Linked DNA regions of Homo sapiens: regions 1 and 3 are each linked to region 2. Evidence: fine-mapped expression QTL. A gene starts in region 2. Each other region holds a variant in brackets. All regions are shown on one strand. Distances are from middle to middle.

Region 1 (7,191 bases), 110 kb after region 2:
TTGAGGCTTGCTCTTTGACCCATGGATTACTTAGAAGTGTGTTGTTTAATTTCTAAGTGCTTGGGTGTTTGCCTGTTGTCTAGTTCGAGTCCATTTTGGTTAGAAAACCAGTCTGTATGATTTCAGTCCTTTTACATTTGTTGAGGTTTGTTTTATGGCTCAGGATATGGTTTATCTTGGTATATATTCTTGAAAAGATTGTATATTTTGCTAGAAAGAGATTTCAAAAATAGTAAATATGAATCAACCTGAAGGATAAAAATAAATGATTTTTCTTTCCTTTGGCAATAGAAATATTGTTACTAGTTGGACAAGTTATCTTTATTCACAGCCTGAGTTATACAAAAAATAGGAATACATCCTTTTTGGTGGTTTACAAATCTAATTATATTTTCATGTTAAAAGTAAGTGGTGGAGGATATGTGAAGTGTCATAGTATTTGCCACAGAGGCTTTTTCCCATTCAAATTGTAATTGTGTGGAATTTTTTATTTTGTAGTTGCTTTAGTAAAAACAAATGATAGAAAAAGCTTGCTTTAAATTAAATTGAACAATGCATAAGAGTATAGAGTAGAAGAAAATATATTTTGGATCATACTTTTGACACCACCTTTTTCCTCTCTCACAATACATTTGGAGGATCTTTTCAGATAGACGTACATAGAATGTCCTGTATGCCATTCTTTGATGGCAGCAGCACAGCTCTCCAGATGCTGATTTAAAAGGAGTTTAGCCACGTGCCATTTCTTTCTTCTGGTGCCCAGTCTCACTAACCTCTCCTAATAGTCTAGCATTGGCCCCTAGAGAAATTCAAAGGTCTGCCAAGGTAAGTCAGCAAACCAGTCAAGGGCCAGGAAGTCAGGAATGTGTGAGTAGCTGAGTCAGGGGTCTGGAATCAGAAGTGAGGGTGAGTCAGGAGCAGGGCCCGGGCTGACTCAGGCAGGCTGAGGTGGTGACCTGTGGAATCAGCTGCCTTACTGGTGCTCCAGGGCAGGGGCAGGCTCACCATGCTGAGGCCTGAAACTTCACTTCTTTCAGGGATCAGCTAATAGATGTGGTCAAGGAATTTGGTCCCAGTCAACCTTCCCTGCTTCTTCTGTGTTAGGTCATCTGTCAGAAAATGTTAACCAAACTTTAGGGCCACATGACTTTGTTTCTCTTTGTGGAAATGGGAATGATATCACTGCAAAGAGTCAGGGAAGAGGTCGTGGGGGGAAAGGAAGAGGGGGTCAAATAAATCAGCGAGAAAGAGAGAAACAGTTGGAAAGCCAGACAGATACTGGGCGCTTCTGCAAGAGTTATAAACTGTTCTTATCACCAAATCTGGTCCATTCTGTCACTCACATGAGTCCGTCCAGTCTTCCTCTCTCTTATTCCCAAAATTTTAGCCTTTTAACTGAAGTCCCTCCTCACAGCTGTGGATTGATTGGAGAGAATGAGTGAGAACAGCTTGTCAAGGGTGACCTTCAGCTTTTACGTTAGGTGACTGGTGAATATTGGAGGCATTGAGAAGGAACAGAGGAGGTCCATGTCTTGGAGTGGTAAGTGGGATGAGGACTTCCATTTTGTGCATGTTGAATCTGACCGTGTTGAGTTTGAGGCATCTGTGGGACACCCAAAGAGGGGTATCTGGCACAAGAGAAAGGCTAGGCTGAAGCTACTGATTTTGGTTGGGCCCAACAGCTGCTTGCAATAGTTGCATGCTCCTGAGGGGGAGGCTGTTTGCATTCTGTCCTTGTTTTACATTTCCATTGGGAGTGGTGTTTTAGAACTTCTTACAGATGTCACAATAATTGTAGACCTGGCCCTACCAGCCATGCTTGAGGTATTATGTAGATTATCTACTTCTTTGCTGCTAGTTTTCCCAGCCCAGTTCAACTATTTCCTGATGCAAATGAAGCTTCTAAGTGTACAAACTTAAAATACCTTTATTACCAGTGCAACCACACTAAACTCTAATTGCCCAGCAACTAGAAAGACTAGGAGTAGACAGTTTATTGTATGTGTGCATTTTGATGGAGGGAAGAGATGAATATTTGCAAATTCATATTATGAAGAACAAGAGTACTTCTCCTTGGGAGATGGGTTTTTCCAAGATGGTAAATGAGTTGCAAAGAACAACTTTTTCTTTCTTTTCTTGAGCTTATTCAACTTTTTTTTTAAAGCTTATTTTGACTTCAGCCAACATTACTTATTTTCAGGTATACAGAGTCAAAAAAAGGTAAAAGAGGAGGATTGGTTTATTGCTGTTTTTCTGGGCAAAAGTGATACTTAGTGGGACCATTTGGCCAGTACTGACATACTGGGTTAGGATACATATTTTTCTCAAAAGCATTTTGAGGAATTCTTAAGGGTTGGCATTCTCTGATATTGGTAATAATATAAGTGTCATTGGTTGTTACCAAATGAATCTATATACTCAGATTTTCCTTTTGTTCAGGTTATTTTATATTTTAAAAAGATCCATGTTGAGGCAGATATTTATACAGAACCAAGTGATTAGAATTGTGATGAGTTGCTAGCTTTGTAGATTGTGCTGTTATTGAGAACTTTGCCTTTACTGGTTTTTTACTTCTCTTAATGTACAGATCTGAGAAACAGAGTTGCTGTAAAAGTTCAAATGCTGCCAGATAGGCTAAGTGGGGAGAAAAAAACCTTTAGATTACCTCTCTCAAAGAGAGTCACCAATATTCTACAGTCTCTGGATATAGTTTTCGAGTATACAGAGGGTACAAGGTTTTGCATGGACGGACGTTTTCATTTCTTTGGCGTGTATACCTGGGAGTAGAGTTGCTGGGTCATAAAATAACTGAGGAATTCCCAAAATGTTTTCCAAAGTGACAGAACCATTTCTCATTCCCCTAGTAATGCCTGAGGGTCTTCATTTCTCCACATCCTCTCCCACACTTGTTATTATCTGCCTTTTTTATGATAGCCATCTTCGTGGGTGTGAAATGGTATTTCATCGTGGCTTTGATTTGCATTTCTCTGATAACTAATGATATCAAGTATCTTTTCATGTGCTTATTGGCCGTTTGTATGTCTTCTTTGGAGAGCTATCTGTTCAGATTCTCTGCCTATTTTAAAATTGGGTTGTCTTTTTATTACTGAGTTGTAATGGTTCTTTATATATTCTGGATATCAGTCTCTTAGTACATATTTAATTTGCAAAATTTTCTCCCCTTCTTCAGATTGTCTTTTCACTTTTTAAATGCTATCCTTTGAAGCGCAAAGATTTTTAATTTTCATGATGTCCAGTTTACTCTTTTTTCTGTTGGTACTTGTGTTGTATCTAAGAAACCATTTCCTCATCCAAGGTCATGAAGACCTTCTCTTCTTCTGCAGTCGAGTGAGAAGTGAGCAGAACTGGTGTAGGGACTGCTTCTACTGAAGGGGGTGCAAGAGAGAAGACTTAGCCATGTCATCCTTGATCATAAAGGTGATCAACACTGAGAAAGCCCAAGGGTACACTGGTCCCTTCAGTCAAGCTGCATTAGTTGACGGGATCCTTTACATTTCAGGAGAGCTAGGCATGAACCTTTCGAGTGCACAGCTTGTGCCAAGAGTGGGTAACAGAAGAAGCTAAACAGGCCCTTAAGAACATGGGTGATATTTTGAAAGCTGCAGGCTGTGACTTCACTAATGTGGCAAAAACAACTGTTTGGCTAGCTGACACAAATGACTTCCGGGCTGTCAATGTAATCTACAAACAGTATTTTAAGAGTGGTTTTTCTACTAGAGCTGCTTACCATGTTGCTGCTTTACCCAAAGGAGGCCAGGTTGAAATTGAAGCAGTAGCTGTTCAAGGACCTCTCACAACAGCCTGTCTATAAGTGGGCCCAGTGCTGTCTAGTCCGGAATTTTTAACGTCTTCATTGTCACA[G/T]TTGATATAACATCTTAATTAACATCTTGATTTTTATAATTGATGAAAAGTGTAAGTTTGACTAAAGTATCCAAAGTTATGGAAATACTATATAATAGAATTAAACATGAATTGAAGGTTAGATGGTGAATCCAGTTACTGATGTTACAAATTACACTTATGCACACCCATATCACTGAATGTAGGAAAGAGATACTCATTACATAGTTACTCAAATAACAGGGAAATAACATGTAGGAAAGATGAGTTGTTGTTCCTGAGAAATAATCAAGAGCATACCTAATTCCAATAAATTGAGTGATGTCATATATTTAGTTATCATGTCAGGTATGTGATTCTGGTAATTCTGCTTTTACTAGTTTAAAATTAAAATATTTAAATTTGAATGGTAGGGGTAAAGAAATAGAAAATGGACCAAAACTTTATATAGATAATATTTTTCTAATGGATAGAAAATAGACATGCAGATTTAAGCTTTACTCTTTTTCTAAGAATTTAATAGTTTTAGCTCTTACATTTAAGTCTATGACTCATTTTGAATTAAATTTTGAACATAGTATGAGGTAGGAGTCTATTTTATTCTTTTGCATGTAGATATTAGTTGTCCCATCACTGTTGGTTGAAGAGACGATTCTTGCCTCATTGAATTGTCTTAGCACTATTCTGTTCCTCTTAAGTTTTATTTTCCAGGCTCCCTACCATTCAAGTGGTTTCCCAGACATTAGTTTTGGTGCTGAAGCTTGGATATTAAAGCATCTGCTCAAAAGAGACTGTTTAGACCAGAAGTGACTGAGATACTACTAACTATTAAGTTCAAGTTAGGATTACTGCCATTGTAGGTAGATGAGAGGTTGTGAGAGAAATTAGAGAGATTGTGAGGAAAATTAAGCTGTTACTAGAAAAATAAAAACAGTAGCGTTTTCTCTGGATGTCTGGAGGTTGGGGAAGCATATTTTCAACCCTGCTTTGTGTGCAGCCTTACTGATGGTAACTTGGTCACCTGGAGAGATTTCGTGACAGACACAATTTCTCTACTGTAGACTGGACTTTTACACATGGACAACAGTAGTTACTTGAAATAGTGAAAAAAAATGAAAATAAGCAATAAAAATCAGGAATTCTCATAGTGGCTGTGTTACTCTGCTATTAAAAAGCTGTGTAACCTCAGGCAACTGCTCCAACCTTGCTTTATCTTATATTAAATGGGGATACTGGATTTATGACCTCTGGCTCTCTCTGGCATTAAAGTTCTATGACGTTGATGCATTTGAAGATGATGTTAACGTGGGCAGGCTTTGATGTTTAGAAACCACATTATAAAAACCTACCTAGCAGTGCCAGAAAGTAAGGAAGTGCTCCAAACACACACACACACGCACGCACGCGTGCGTGTGCACTCACATTGATGAGGTATGGCACAGGGACACAGGAACGAAATACAGAAGCTGCCGGTGGCCAAAGTCACAAAATAAGGTAGTATTGGATTATGACCCCAAAATAAAATAAATGCTCATGGTGTTCACACTGATGTAACAAGTAAATGAATACATAAATGGGGAATAATAGAGGACTCTACCTTCTGGAAGAGTTCCAAATAATTTATTTAGATATATTGCCTTCAAGTAGGTAGGGGCTCACACCCCATTCTTGAAGTTGGGCTGCACATAGTGAATTCCTTCCAGAGTGTACAGGATGAAGTGGGGGAGAAAAGAGTCACTTTTTCTGGTGGACTGGGGAGTCAGTAGAGAAACCTGATAAACATTACGTCAGCCACGTGATCAATTTCAGCATCAATCACATTGATAGTATCTACCCTTGATATGATATGCTGAAAATGACACTTTACCTTCATGGTCTTTCTACCCCAAACATCAGACAAATTCCAATTGAGGAACATCCTGCAAATATACCTTGCGCAGTACTCCTCAAACTGTTACAGTCATCAAAACCAGGGAGTCTGAGGAGCCGTCACAGCCAAGAGGAGCCTGAGGAGCTATGATGACCGAATGTGATGGAGTATCCTGAGTGGGATCAAGAGTCAGAAAAGGATGTTAGGTAAAAACTAAGGAAAGCTGAATAAAGTATGGACTTTGGTTAATAATAATAGATCAGGATTAGTTCATTCATTATGACACATGTACCATGTTCGTGTAAGATGCAGTAACAGGGGAAGCCGAGTGTGGGATGAAAGGGAATTTTGTATTATTTTAGCAGTTTTTCTATAATCTAAAGCTTTTCTATAGATAATTTTTCGTTTAGAAAAACCTACCTGGGGGAATATTCTAACACCCAGTTTGGTGCCTCTTCTGTGAAGTCATCCTCAAGCAGCCTCCTTCCCACAGTGCCACTGCTTTCTCCGTGGCACCAGTTGCATCTCTGTTCTGCCACTGGCACTGCAGTTAACTTCCTCTCTTGTCTGCCCTGCAAGGCTGTGAGCTCTTCATTCATCTTTATGCACAGCTTCTGGCACACAAGACGCACTCACATGTTTGTTAGCTGATACAATGAAAGAATGAGCCCTAGAACATATGTTTCCTGAATCCACTACATGTACCACTTTTTGCTTTGAGTCCCTGTACTCGAAGATGCTCACATTGTAGCTAAGAGGCAGAATAGTAACGGGATAATGATGCCCATGATGTAGGAAGAACAGATGAATCTCCGTTATAGAAGAGTTCCAAATAATTTAGGAAGAGAAAGAAATGCCTACTCTCTCTACTTTAGAGAACAGCATAAGTTTTGCAATGAGAATGTGTCAGAAAAGTGCTTTAAAAATATGTTCATCCCAAGAAAGATGCAAATAGTACTGGGACCAACTCCCCTCCTCCTCCTCCTTCCTGCAAACATACCTGGCCCAGTATATGTAACTCCTGAAACTGTTACGGTCATCAAAACCAGGGAAAGTCTGAGGAGCTGTCACAGCCAAGAGGAGCCTGAGGAGCAATGATGACTGAATGTAATGTGGTATCCTGAATGGGATCAAGAGCTGGAAAAGGACGTTAGGTAAAAACTAAGGAAAGCTCACTTCCAGATATTTCCAGTCAGAGACTTTATTACTTCATTTAAGGCTTTTAGTCTTTGAAATCCTCAGGTATGATGACTTATCTGGAGGCATACACTTGATTTATCAACTAAAGCCTTAGGTTTCTCACTCTGGTGAAGGCAGAACCTGGAGACCTGGCAATAGGAGGCACATCTTAAGGGAGGTTAGAGGATCTGATCAGTTCATTGATCCTAGAAATTGACATTCAAAAGATGAGGTGGGCCTAACTTGATTCATTTCCTCAGAGGCATCACACACATTTCAGG
Region 2 (7,191 bases):
AAGACTCCTGGGTTCTTCCCAACAGCTCTCAGTTACCCTCCTCTTTCTCCCTTGGGTGATGCCCTCTGCTTCCTCCACCCTCAGTGAAGGCACTGCACTCTCCTTTCCTGGCTCCTGGTCCTCACTCTCCCCTCACCCTCCACATGGATGCTGCCCAGAGACACTCCTCCACTTCCCAGCTGCCTGCTGGGGCATTTCCACTGAAAAGTTCCACCATTACTTCATGCTCCATGGAACCTTCAGGAGCTCTCCTGAAAAGCAGCCTCTTTCCATATTGTTCCTATTTCTGATGCTCCAAGGCACCCAGCCTGGAAGCCTCAGCTTTGCCTTTGCCAGTTCCACTCCCTCATTGCACACATCTGGTCACCAAGACATCTGGTCTTCCAAACAAGAGCCCTTCCCTTCCCTTTTCCCTTCCCTTCCCTTCCCTTTTCCCTTCCCTTCCCCTTTTCCTTCCCTGTGCTTCCCTTCCCCTTCTCCTTCCCTTCCCCTTCTCCTGCCTTCCCTCCCTCCCTCCTTTCTCTTTTTCTTCCCTTCCCTTTTTCCTTCCCTTCCTTTTCCCTCCCTTCCCCGTTTCCTTCCCTTCCCTTCCCTTTTTCCTTCCCTTCCCCTTTTTCTTCCCTTCCCCTTTTCCTTACCTTCTGCTTTTCCTTCCCTTCCCCTTCTCTCTCTCCTTCCTTCCTTCATTAGTTCCTTCCTTCCTTCCTTCCCTCCCTCCCTTCCTTCCTTCTCTCCCTCCCTCCCTCCCTCTCTCCTTTCTCTCTTTCTTTTCTTTTCTTTCTTTTTTTGAGACAATTTCATTCTGTTGCCCAGGCTGGAGTCCACTGGGGCAGTCACAGCTCACTGCAACCTCAACCTCCCAGGATCAGTTGATCCTCCCACCTCAGCCTCCTGAGTAGCTGGAACTACAGGCACATGCTACCATGCCTGGCTAATTTGTGTGTGTGTGTGTGTGTGTGTGTGTGTGTGTGTGTGTGTGTGTGTGTGTGTATGCGCTTTTTTTCTTTTTCTTTTTCTTTTTTTTTTGGTAGAGACAGTTTTCGCCATGTTGCCCAGGCTGGTCTTGAATTCCTGTGCTCAGGTGATCCACTGCCTTGGCCTCCCAAAGTGTTGGGATTACAGGCATAAGCCACTGCACCCAGTTGGAAAATTCTTTCCTGTCCCTCCCTGCTGCAACTCCCCATCTACCCCATGACTCTGCTGGTTCCTAGGCCATGGGTCTCCCCCATCTGGTTCCCAGGGCCATTTAGGTGCCCTCTATTGCATGCAGGTTCCATTCTAGTCATTTTGAGGTGTCCAAGTACTGTTTGGTTGCCTTGAGCCCCCTCACTTTGGCATTTGATGCCTTTTCCACCCTCTGACCCCATCCACCTTTCTAGTATGCCTCATCCCATTTTCTAGCATGTGTGTCCTGCCCCAGGCAGCCTCTGCTCAGGAAAGCTGGTCCACCCTCTGGGCACTGTTCACACACCCCATCACCTTGGCTGTCTTCCCCAACCTAGACCTGCTAACTCTGGAATAGTGCAATACCGCTTCCTCCAAAAAGACTCCCTTGACCATGCTGCCCACTTGGGATAAGTAGCATCTTTTTTTTTTTTTCTTTCTTTCCTGGCAATGAATCACTATTATTAGGTCGGAGCAAAAGTAACTGTGGCTTTTCCCATTGAAAGTAATAGCAAAACTGCAATTACTTTTGCACCAACCTATTACTTTTTCAAGTCCTTTTATATTGTTTTGAATTGTTAAGTTTTCAAGGGTCTATTTCATTCAATATGTCAGCAAACATGTATTAAGTACAGGTTGGGCAGGGCGCAGTGGCTCACATCTGTAATCCCAGCACTTTGGGAGGCCGAGGCGGGTAGATTACTTAAGGTCAGGAGTTCGAGACCAGCCTGACCAACGTGGTGAAACCCCGTCTCTACTAAAAACACAAAAATTAGCCGCGCGTAGTGGTGGCCACCTGTAGTCCCAGCTACTCGGGAGGCTGAGGCACGAGAATCGCTTGAACCCGGGAGGCAGAGGCAATGAGCCGAGATCGCGCTACTGCACTCCAGCCTGGGCAAAACAGCAAGACTCCATCTCCAAAAAAAAAAAAAAAAAAAAAAAGTACAGGTTGTTGTTTTCTCAGGGAATCCTCATAGCTGGTGAAGTATCCAGCTTTTCATTTTACGGATGAGTGAACTGGGGTTTAGAACTGATAACATTTTGCCCAAGTTCTCACAGCTAGCGAGAGGCGTGCCGCAGTTTATCGTGGGGTGGGTCTAAACAAGGACCTAAAAACTGTATTCGAATCCCAGCCCTACTACCGCCAGCTGTGTGACCTTACGAGGCGCCTCACTTTACTGTTTCTCCAACAGAGACAGACATTTCTTGTTACCGCGCAAGTGGGATAACCTCCCCACCAGTGTCTAGACACAGTAGGTGCTCAATAAATAGGTGTGGGTTTGCGGTGGCAGAAGAGCGCTATCCCTTAAGTTTCTGACAGTGAGGGGGAAAAAGGCTAAGCAGGGAAAGGAAGGGAAAGGGGTAAACTGAGCTCGGCGCAGTCGAGAGCGCGAAATAGGGAGGGCTTCCTGCAGGCCAGGAATTTGGAGAGGCCGAGGCTGGGAGAAGAAAAATGCCCGGTGACGGCGGAGGGGAGGTGGAAGGACGAACGGCTCCGGGAAGGGGTGAGGTCTAAGCGCAGCCCCGGGCCCAGCGGAGCCGAGGGCGGGTGGTGCGGGGGTTCCTGGGTAGGTTCGTCCCGACGGGCCGCGGGCGGATTGAAGGGAGGGTTGGGCCCGCCGGCAGCCCCGGCGGGTCCAGGCCCCCGGCCAGCCCCTGCCCCTCCTCCCAGGAGGGCGGGCGGCGACTGCGGGGCGGGGCGCGGGCTCGCTCGGCCTCCCGGCGGCGCCGCGGCCCTTGCACTCCGGCCGGGCTCTGCTGGCTGCGGCGGGAGCTGGACGCGGGAGGAGGCGGCGGCGGCGGTGAGTGAGCTCCGGGCTGGAGCGGGGCGGGGTGTGCGCCGGCAGCCGGGTTTCGGGGTGCTAGGGGCCGCCCAGGGCGGCGGGACCCCCAGGGGTTCGGGCTCAGCCAGGTGCACTGTGCTCAGTCCGCGCGTCCACTCTCGGTGACCCGCGCCGCGCGTGTCCTGGGGCTCGAAGATGCGACCCGGACTCCCGCGCCGCGCCCCGCCGAGGGCAGGCGCAGAACAGATGCGGGCGATCCCTGGGGAACCCGCTTCGGGGCGGGGTGGGAGGGAGGAGGCCCTGCAGAACCTCCCTTTAGTGAAGAGGGACTTTCTGCCTTCGCACCCCTGCCTGGACCCTCCGGCTCTAGTGACAGCTGGGAGAGACTCACACGAAGCAGTTTCTGACCTATCCTGTCGTACACAAGTCCTCGGCGTGCTCGGCCGGACCATCCCCTGGAAAGAAAGGGGCGTGTGACCTTTCTCTCCCCGATCCTCCAGACCACTGCGCCGCCCAGGGAGGTCATCCCCGAGAGAGCCCCCGCCTCACTCGGAGCACACATTCTAGCTCTCCCCGGGACTTTTCCAAGTTGCATCACTGTTTGGCCTCTAGACAGGTACTTGGCTGTCATGTTGGAGTTAGTTACACAGGATTTTTGAAACTTTGTATATTTGCTTTGTGTGTTCTTCACCCTAAGGCCGCTGCCCTCCCGACTCTGCTTATGCCGCTCAAAACGTTGCTCAAAGCTCGCTGGGAATGCTTTTGCGGGCATTGGTTCTCAAACTTGGCCCCACATCTGGAGAGTTTTAAAAAATACTGGTGCCTGTGTCCCACTCCCAGAGATCTGGATTCGGCTTGCCTGGGTTGCAGCCTGGACAATGGAATTTTTAAGACGCCGCAGGTGATTCTAATGTGCAGGCAAGTTTGAAAACCTCTGCTTTGAGAGTTGCTCCCACCAGCCACTCTTCGGACGGCTCAAGATCAGTCCTGATCTAGAACTCATCTCAGGTCCTCATAGCTCTTCCCTAATCCACCTCTCCACCTGAAGAACCTGTTGATTGGTGCTTTCCAACTTTAGACAGTAGATGGTGCCTTTACTGAAGATCCCTTTGTTTCTACCTCTCTGTTTACAGTCAATACTGCCAGGGCACTTTCTGCCAAGGAGGTGGGAGTGTAGGCATTAGAACCGAGCAGTCCTTGTCAGGGTCAAGGTTATAATACAGGGTTGTCCTATTCAGGGAAAACCAAGTGATAATTTGACTTGTCATATTCGGGAATGATTTCAGATTAAAAGGAGAAAAAATACTTTAGGGTTTGGTCAGCTTTTGGAGACCCTCCGGAGACTCCCCCACGTAGATAATGGAGTTGCATAAATGTGGAGAATTTTCCTTCAAAAAGCCAAAGCTAACAACATCCTTAAGGTTTTGTGGTTGATATTTGTGTTAACATAAGTCCATTTTTGTAGATTAAACTTATTCTGGAAGTATGATGAAGCCCTGCAGACAGAACACAGTGTATAACATGGCACATCTGAGATGACACCTGAGACACCTGTCACATGGTCTTAAAAATGATAGAGAAGTAGGACTAAGGAAAATGTAACCATGCTTATATTGGCTAAATTAGGTCATATATTTTATCAAGAAAATGTGTTTTCACTGCCCTTTTTAGTAATGTGATAGTCTCCGGGGATCTTGGTTAATTTACTTTTGTACCCCAAATATGATGTTTGCATTAAAATTTCCACCCTGATGTTGCTACCTGACCACAAATCAGTGGTTTTAAGTTTTTCTTAGGGGGTGGCCCTCTATGTGTTTTTTTTTTTTTTTTTTTTTTTTTTTTTTTTTTTGAGACAGAGTTTTGCTCTTGTCGCCCAGGCTGGAGTGCAATGGTGCAATCTCAGCTTACGGCAGCCTCGGCCTCCCTGGTTCAAATGATTCTCCTGCCTCAGCCTCCCAAGTAGCTGGGATTACAGGCACCCGCTACCATGCTCGGCTACTTTTTTGTATTTTTAGTAGAGACAGGGTTTCGCCATGTTGTCCAGGCTGTTCTCAAACTCCTGACCTCAGGTGATCTGCCCACCTCGGCCTCTCAAAGTGCTGGGATTACAGGCATGAGCCACCGTGCCCCGCCTGTATTTTTATTAACAGTGGGATGACATCCTTCCAAGAATGCCTTGCTGAAGTGAAAGAACATTTACATTCATTTCTAGCTGCTAATGTAAGTCCAAAGAACATTCATTTTGAAAAATACAAAAATGACATAATTTTGCCCACTTGGTTTTCTCGCTTTTCCCCAACTTCCACGACCATGCTCTGCTGCTACTACTGTATTCACTTGCTGGAGGTGTGCACCCTGTGGGAGCCGTCTTCATTGTCTTGGCTTTGGCTTGAAATGGAGGTTACATGCAGCGCATTGTCTTACAGGGTGTCCCCTGACCCGAATCATCACCCTTTGGGGAGCAAGACTATATGGAAAGTGTTTTCCTACTGTTTTTTTTGTGTGTGTGTGTGTGAGTGAGTGAGACCATGCCAACAAAATGAAGCCATATTATTAAATGGTTTGTTAACTTCCAAATCTTGTCTCAATTGGGAAAAGAAAAATGCTTATTCGAGGATGCTGTTGAATTCATGGTGTCTGAAAAGTCACCCCTGAACAGCAATAGTTACACTGTGAATATAATAATACACTCTACCCCCCCAAAAAGAAAAGTTTATGTAAATGTGGGCCTAAGCACATTTATTGCAATTTCTCACTTTGGAGTAGCAGCTCTAATATCCTAAAGTGATTAGAAGAAAGTAAGTGAAGAAAAATATGAAGAAAGGGTTAGTGAGATACTTTTTCATTTAGGGAAAGGGGATACAGCAACTAGAAAAGGCCTTGGGTTTGTGTTAAGAATTTATTGCCCTGGTGGCTTCCTTTTTTTCTTTGTTTAATTTGCTTGTGCTGATGGGTGAGGGAGAGTTAAAGAAATTTAATGGCCTCCTAACTCTCTTTCCCCGTGAAACCCATTTATCTAAGAGATGCCATTGGCCTTTTAAAAATATCCAACTGATTTTATGCTTTTCCTTTCTTTTCATCTTCTGATCTCGGCACTAAAGGGCGGTGGCATGGCTGAGAGGTTGGCATCAGAGCAGGAAAACAAAGTTCAAGGGGAAACCAAAAATTGGGTAATTTTCTCTGAATGACCAAGTGCTTACTTTTTTCAGGCATGTGACATTGCTGTTATCAAGAAACCAGTTATGACATGAAAATCCTGAAAATGGAAAAGGAAAAAAGAAAAAAAAAGGGAATGGGGTGGGGGATGGAAATAGCACCAGGGTTGACTGACCTTTACCGAGGAGGGAAGGCTTAGTGTTTTCAGCCTGGTGTCCCCCGTGTCCCGATTGCAGCCCCCTGTACTTCTCTCCTCATGCACCCTCCTGCATCCCTCAAGCCAATATCCTTGGGGGAGATAGTGCTTCATCTTAAATTCACACTAAGGTGTCTTTTTGTTTTTGTTATTTGAGACTCTGCTCTGTCACCCAGGCTGGAGTGCAGTGATGTGATCTCAGCTCACTGCAACCTCCGCCTCCCGGGTTAAAGCAATCCTCCCTGCCTCAGCCTCCTGAGTAGCTGGAATTACAGGCATGCGCCACCATACCCCGCTTATTTTTGTATTTTTAGTAGAGATGGGGTTTCACCATGTTGGCCAGGCTGGTCTCGAACTCCTGACCTCAGGTGATCCACCTGCCTCGGCCTCCCAAAGTGCTCCGATTACAGGCATGAGCCACTGTGCCCAGCTGTTAGTAGCCCCTGTTACTAGCAAAAGCTATGTATTACCCAGAGTTGTTGGTAAACAGGATAAGGTTCCTGCCTTAAGGGGCCTGAGTCAGGTGGGGATGTAAACCCTGGGTTGCAATAAGTTAGGAACTTTTCTAATCAAGAGGAACACAGTGGCCCGTGGGGTACTGTGGGGCACCTGGCTAGCCTCGCCTGGGTAGATGCCTCCTCAATTCATTGGCACAGGAGGCATAAGACATGCTTTACTTGGGTTTACATTAAAGCTTATTCTATTAGGCCCGTACCCCAAATGACTGATTTTGGAAATGTCCGACTCCAGGAGCGAGAAGGGTGCAGGTATCCATCATGCAAAGGGGAGGTGGGAGGTGGAGGAAGAGAACAGATTCTGGCAGGTGTCTTTTGCTTCTGGAGTCTACTGAACAGGGGTACTTCCTGGGAGTGGGAAGCTCATGGAGAATGT
Region 3 (7,191 bases), 160 kb after region 2:
GATTTGAGGCCCAGAGTCACCTGGTGATTTGACCACAGTCATGCAGGCAATTGACTGCAGAGCTGGGCTTAGGTCTCAATTTCCAAGGCAGTGCTCTATCTACCCGTGCCTGCAAAATATGATGAATACCTGCTGTGTGCATGGCATTGCAGTAAAGCTCCAAGAGGACCAGAAATGGTCCCTGACCTTGAGTTGCTACAGTTTGTTTGAGGAGATGGGTCAGACCTAAAAAATTGATAACTAACAATAGAAAACAGTGGATACTAAATGCCAAGTAAAAGATTCAAGCAGCTAATGAGGGAAAGACCATTGTTGCAAGAGTGAGTGTGGAAGAATTACTGGAAAGAGGGTGGGGACCTGGGGTCAGCTCTAAAGAAAGGGTAAGACGTGAATAAACCAAGGGGATTGGGAATGGGATTCTAGATAGAAGGAATGGTGTGAACAAAGACTGGGAGGTAGGGACCTATACAGCATTTTGAGGAGCAATGAATGGATGAATGGATGAGTGTGGGTCAATCAGATTTCCAGTTTCCATAGGAAATGAAAGGAGATAAGTTTGAAGAGGCAGACTGAGGGTGTTGAATGGCTCTATTGTGAAGGCAGTGGGCAGCCATCGAAGGCGATTGAGCACAATAGTGAAGCATACACTGTGTTCTAGAAGACTCATGCGCCAGGGGTGGGGGTGAGGACTGGAGAAGGGGCGACTGAGAGGAGGCCTCAACTGTGCTGTTACCAGGGCAGAGGACAAGGAAGGCTGTGTAAGATGGTGTATTTGACCCTTTCCATGCCTCCATTCTTTCTTTCTCTTATGCATACATTTGGCACTCACTAAATGCTGGCCATGTTGTTTATAAGTTCCCAGCCTGTATTAGTTCGTTCTCACACTGCTATAAGGACATACCTGAGACTGGATAATTTATAGAGGAAAGAGGTTTAATGGACTCACAGTTCAGCATGGCTGGGGAGGCCTCACAATCATGGCAGAAGGCAAAGGAGGAGCAAAGGCATGTCTTACATGGCGGCAGGCAAAAGAGTGTGTGTAGGGGAACTGCCCTTTATAAAACCATTAGATCTCATGAGACTTATTCACTATTATGAGAACAGCACAGGAAAAACCTACCCCCGTGATTCAGTTACCTCCCACTGGGTCCCTCCCACAACACGTGGGGATTATGGGAGCTATAATTCAAGATGAGATTTGGGTGAGGACACAGCCAAACCATATCACAGCCTTTCTAAGGGCTTCCTTTACATGCTCAGGACAATATTATTCAGAGTGATGGATTCAGGAAATCCTAATTGAGAGAGAAACGTTTTTCAAACCTCTTGGATGTTTGGACTTTGTTTTCAAGTCTGACTGCTATGAAGGAGAAGGGATGGATTTGGAGTTGATAAAATGATATCTTCTTTATGAAATAGAAGTAAGGAGTATCTGTTTTCTCACCCAAGTATAGTCCCATCATATACAGAAAGGTTTCTGATTGGCTTATAAGTTGAAAGAAGTTGAAGTTGCTGGCGTTTGGTCTGTTTAAATCCAGAGTAATCCTTTTTCCTTTCCGTCCTCCAAAAACCATGTTTCCATTTATGACAATTGCCATCCTTACCAATGATTCCCTAAGTGCTAGGCACTGTGCTGGGTGCCTCACTCACTTTCTTGTTGTTTTCAGGGCTTTCAAGGTGAAGTGACTACATAGGGTCACACAGTTTGTAGGAGGTGGAGTCACAGTTTGACTCCAAAGCCTCTTGCCTATTCCCATCGTCCCTGAATGAGACTATGTCATGGTCTTAAAGACCACTCCTTCAAATGCATTTGGGTCTCCATTCCCAAGTTAAAAGTGGTGTTTCTTAAAATGGGTGAGGAGTTAAGTTCAGCTGATCCTCTCCTGATTCTTTATGAGTGCAGGATTCAAATAGCCAAAGAGAGGTCCGGCTTCATATGCTTTAAATTAAAGGCCAATAGGCTGTTGTGCTGGCTCGATAAGCACTGCTGCAAATGCTTCACAGCAGAGCTGGGCCTACATGGGAAGGCGTTCTCTTGGCTATGGAGACCATGATGACCCAGCCCAGTGGAGAGATGACTCATCAAGCCCAGGCAGCTGGCAGGCAGGAAAAATACCAACTCGAGCTTTGGGTGGCTTCATGGTCTCTCCAGGGACTGAGCAAGGCTGCCTTGTTGCCTCGGCAACTGCAGGATTAAATGCCAGTGATAGAGTTGTGGGCTCCTACAGTCACTTTCGGGAACTGCTCCTCAGTCAGCATCAGGGGTGCCACCCCTGCTAAATGGGACCGTCGTCTTTGCAGTTGTGAGTGAAAGATCAGAGGGGGGTTTTCTTCTTCTTTTTTTTTTTAATTGAAATGCTCCTAATCTCAGAACTGCCTTTTATTGTATCAGCTGCTCAAAAACCCAGTGTGTACAGTTGATTAATAACAATTTTCCTTTTTTGTGGTTATTATTTTTAATGCCAGCCAGGAGTGTGGGCTTGCCGACCTCTTTACAGCCCAATGATAAACACAGGTGATGGGGTTCAGTATTGTTATTGGCCATCACAAATAGCTCTGGCTTTCCATTAACCCAAAAGGCAGCTACTTACAATTCTGAGAGCTGGCTCAGGTCATGGGTATCTCTGACATAAAACCCACTGGAATCTGATACTGTGATTTCTGATCAAAATGCTCAGGGCTTAGCATTCTTTCAATCCAGCTGTGATATACTTTTGCCTTCAGCTCCTGTTCTGTTTTTAATTTGACTGGAAAGTTTTTGTTTGTGCTATTTAATGTAGTTGAAGGGTAAACAACATAGAAAGCACTAAGCTTATATAAAGAAATACTTTCCCAGCCTTGAGTTTACTCTTCTCTGGTCCAGGAGGCTGGCTCAGCCAAGCCATAGGTTTTTCCCTCCTCCCCGCCACCCCCCGCCCCAGGGCAGGTGCCAGTGTGGGCTCAGGGTAAGAATTTGATTTACGATATTCCCAAGTCAAGGGGCCTAGTCCTGGGATCACTGCACTGAGGACAGCTAACAGCAGGGACACATAGGATACTTCTGGGTTTATGTTGAAACCCATCCTTCTTGGGGCATTGTCCATAATACCACATAGTATTTCTTGTATAAGGCTCCACATGGTGGATTTACTTTAGAATTTCATGTCAGGCTGTCCTTTGAAGAACAAAAGGAAGCCTATTATGTTTGCCAAAAGCCTGGGTTTGCAAAGACTGAAGGAAATGGACTGCCTGCTCAGGTCACAGTAACTGTTAAGTTTTATGGCTACACATTTATTCCTTCCTGTTCTTCACTCTGATTTATTTTACATTTCCATTTTAATAGCCATCTTTTAAGGGGCTATGGTGGGGGATAAATAATTCCTTTTTTTGCCCCCCTTTGGAGAGTCACCATTATCCTGGGGCTCTCCAGGGGCCCTCCAGGGAGGTCTTGAACCTG[T/C]GGGGACCCTTGGGGATGCTGCCATGCTAAGTGCTGCTCTGCACAGGGAAGTCTGTTTCCTGGTGGGATCCAGATTTTTCAGACATTGGCACTGAGGGTGCAAGACTGTGGCCAGTGGCTGCTGCTTTATGTGGCAGGATTTGTCCTGAACCCCCAGGCTGGGCCCAGGGCTGCGTGACCACTTGGCCATCCTGGAATCCCTCCATGCGCTCTCTGCACTCTGCCTCACTCCACCATAGACACGTTCTCCTTCTGGGCTCCACAGTCCCGGTCTAAACTCTCCTTGTGGGTCTTCTTCCTTTATTGAGAGTCCTAGGTCCTACAGGTTTGCGAAGACACAACGGGGAGGGGAAAAAAGAGTGTATGAGTTTTTGTCAGAAAACCTAGGTTGGAATCCCAAAGCTGCTTCCACCTAACTCTGACTCAGAAGCTGTTTCTGGACCTCCCACCTGGAAACTCAGGGTGATAACATCTGCCTCGGAGAGTTCCCGCCCAGCGCCCAGCTTGAGGGGCTCTTGATTCTTGGTGTTTCCCCTCTGGGTCTCCTGGCCGGGAGCACAGCTGCAGAGCGATGCCTGCCTCTGCTCTGCTGGCCGTTTATTGTCTTCTGGTATTTTTCAGGCGCACACTCCACAGCAACTAGATTTCTTTGTCTCTCTACAAGCCTTCAGTTTTTCTTTATCCCTTCACTTTTCGGAAAATAATCTACCTTCCGTCCCTTTCTTGCCTCTACCTTCCCTTTGAGCTACAGGCTCCTGCCTTCCACCAAGCCCTGGAGGATCCTCTTCCTCTCCCCACCCACATTCTGACCCCAAGACAGGGCTGGATCCTGTCCCTCCACTTGCTGGGTGGCTGCTCTCCTGTGACACTCCCTTCTCGATGTCCACTGGTTGTGACTTTTCTCTCCTCTGTGGCTTCTCATTGACACCTAACAATAGGTGTGGGCATTTCTTGCACACCCTCGTGCCCCCTCCAGCCCTGGGTCATAGCTGCTGTCTTAGTCGCTGCTGGATTCCAGAGGAGAAGTGTGGTGTCTATTCCCACCTCTTCACCTCCAGCGCCTCCTCTGAGCTTTGCAGTCAGGCTCACCTCTCTGCAGACCCTTCCAGAAGCAAACTTGGTTCTTGTCCAGCCTGTGTGCTTTACCGGCAGTCCTTGCCCTTCTTGCCTTTTGGGATAGATCCTGGATTCTCCCTGCCTCCCCTGACATGGGGGGTTGGAGGGGATCCCCAGGGCACAGCTGCAGATCCTCCTTATTCTTTATATATTGCTCCTTGGTGGGCTCACCTGTTCTGTGGCTTCCACCGGCATCGCCCAGTTGGCCCCACATGCATCACCAGGAGGAATCTAAGCACAGATGGGGATGTTAACACTGCCTACCTCATTGGTGGTGGCCAGGAGTAAATGAGATAATACTATTCAAATCCGCAGGACTTGCTTTCCTAAGCACAATAAATCTGTGAGCAGCTGTCACAGTATGATTTTGGGTCCTGTGTGACTACTCTCTGTCTTCCTCTCCACCCAATCCATCGATTGCTTAACCTGCCCCCTCACCTCCCTCATATGGCTAATTCCTTCCAACACTGCCCTTCTCTTTCTTACCTCCTACTCTGTGTTACTGGTGGTCTGCCCCCTTCCGGTTTTGAAAGCTGCATTCCCTACCCTGCCCATTGTATTAGCCTGTTCTCATGCTGCTAATAAAGACATACCTGAGACTGGGCAATTTATAAATGTTTAGTTGACTCACAGTTCAGCATAGCTGGGGAGGCCTTATGATCATGGCTGAAGGTGAATGAGAAGCACAGTCATGTCTTACATGGCGGCAGGCAAAAGAGACCATGTGCAGGGGAATTTCCCTTTATAAAGCCATCAGATCTCATGAGAATTATTCACTGTCACAAGAACAGCATGGGAAAGACCCGCCCCCGTGATTCAGTTACCTCCCACTGGGTCCCTCCCATGACACTGGGGATTGTGGGAACTACAATTTAAGATGAGATTTGGGTGGGGACTCAGGCAAACCATATTACCCTTTTTTCTACCCTGTCTATCCCTGATCTCATTTAGGTTTCAGCTTACTGTCTGTGTCCTGGAAGCTTTTGCTGGCCCTCTGAATCTGGGCAGTCACCCAGTGCACCCACCCCAGCACACTGTCCTTTCCTGTCATAGTGACACTGACCTCTTATGCAGGGCTCGTTCATTTGTCCCCCACTAGGCTATATGGAGAGCGGGCACTTTCTGGGTCTCTTTGTCACAATGTCCTGCATAAGACACATCATGTCGTTTGAACAGCGAACAAACCCATCCTATCGTTCTGAGACTACCCTTGCCCAGCACACAAGCGTGTGCACTCGCAGACACATGCTTGCTCTCATTATGACAATGTGGGTTTTCCCCAGGGGAAACTCCTAATGGTTGAGAGACGGGGTGGCTGCTCTGCCTAAGGATGGAGGCAGGCGCCTCTGGCTTCCTCAGAAGGGTGCCACACAGTACCCTGAAGGGTAGAGGAGGCACCAGGTTGTGCTTTTATTGTATCATTGGCCAGCTCGGGGGCCCTTACAGCGTGTCTCATTCAATCAAGTTCCTTGCTTAGGAGCCTGTATCCCAGAAGTTAGATCAACAAGGTCACAGGTGAGGGACAGACAGAGCCAGCAGGACAAGTTAGGCCACTGCTGTTTTTCTCTGTAATTGTTTCCCATTGCAGTGGAAATTTAACCATGTCCTCAGTGAAGTGCTGGGCCCTGCCCTGGGCACATGAACAGAACGGCTGCCCCTGGGAGGCACGTCTGTCCTCAGTCCCGTGGCCCAGCTGTTCTGCTGACCTCCATGTGTGAGGTGTCAGTGGCTGGTTCAGAAACCACCTTGGGAGCAGGGCCGTGAGCCTGCATTCATTCCCCTTGCACTTTGTGCTGGGGTAACAGTAACAGCAATTGTTCTGGTGCCCTCTTTGCAGTGTGTGATTCGTGAGGGCCCTGGGGCCCAGCAGAGTGGGAGCGGGCCTGAGTTGGGTGGACGTGCCCTGCCTGCTGGTCCTGGCCACTGCTGGCATTTTTCCCTTCTCTATGCAAGATGCCCTAAGGAGGCTGGACTGCCCTTCTGTGCCCGGATGTTTATGCTACAGCTGCATTTGAACTCTAGGCCTATTGGAATCCTTTTCACTTAGATGGTCCAGAGACAGAGCCATGAAGTAATGGGCAGTGCAGGGGCTCAGCCTGTCTCTAGCCCTGCTCCTGAGGTTACTTGCATAACCGCTGCCGTAGGCCTCAGTTTCCTCTGCTGAACATTCTGAACCTCCATGATTTAGATGCCTGCCAGTTAGGAATTTTAAAATGTGAGCATTTTCTTTGGACCACCTGGTACCCCCTCACCTAGGGGCAGAGGCCCAGCTTCCCCCTGTGGTGTTGGAGGCCTTTGTGTCCCAACCCTGCCTGTCCCACCAGCATCATTTAGCCCCCTTCCCCGTTGCCCACTCTGGGCCAGTGACATCATGCTGTGTGACACACCTCGGTCAGGACAAGGGGAGCCAGGGAGCAAATGCAAGCCTGGCCCAATGTGGGATGTCTCCTCTGGCCATTCCTGGGACCCCAGTTCTTGCTCTCCATGGGGGACAGTGAGGAAGGGGTGAGCTTATCTTTTACTCACTGGGGTGCTTGTACAGGTGGCGAAATTCAACTTGAGGCCAGGCCAAGTAAGCCTGTGTCAGATGCTCTCCAGGCCCTGGTGTCTGGGGCTGTGTGTGTACCTCTTAGCCACGT

Alleles and levels. Positions count from the first base shown, and alleles are read on the strand shown. Sizes are in standard deviations (SD) of each study's normalised expression. Not every link is listed here.
In carriers of allele G in region 1, the expression in tibial nerve of the gene that starts at base 2,904 in region 2 tends to be lower than with T alone (small effect, 0.17 SD a copy in GTEx).

Evidence for each region. PIP is the estimated chance that this variant, and not a neighbour inherited with it, causes the effect. A credible set is the group of variants that fine-mapping cannot tell apart.
Region 1: its variant is the best candidate, but not a certain one, in a credible set for the expression of CGNL1 in tibial nerve (GTEx, PIP 0.53).
Region 3: its variant is the best candidate, but not a certain one, in a credible set for the expression of CGNL1 in lung (TOPMed, PIP 0.62).

What each region holds. Positions count from the first base shown.
Region 1 is chr15:57,485,155-57,492,345 of GRCh38, forward strand. All of the region lies in intron 8 of CGNL1 (cingulin like 1), which reads left to right. It also overlaps the pseudogene RIDAP3. Among named protein-coding and RNA genes, the nearest start is that of GCOM1, 100 kb to the right of the region's middle. RefSeq lists an enhancer at 298-1,497. The variant G/T (reference allele first, on the strand shown) is at 3,883.
Region 2 is chr15:57,373,602-57,380,792 of GRCh38, forward strand. CGNL1 (cingulin like 1) reads left to right here and starts at 2,904. Exons shown (of 19, transcript NM_032866.5): 1 at 2,904-2,966.
Region 3 is chr15:57,535,106-57,542,296 of GRCh38, forward strand. The region is part of intron 14 of CGNL1 (cingulin like 1); the gene reads left to right. Among named protein-coding and RNA genes, the nearest start is that of GCOM1, 53 kb to the right of the region's middle. RefSeq lists enhancers at 5,351-5,690, 5,831-6,150. The variant T/C (reference allele first, on the strand shown) is at 3,437.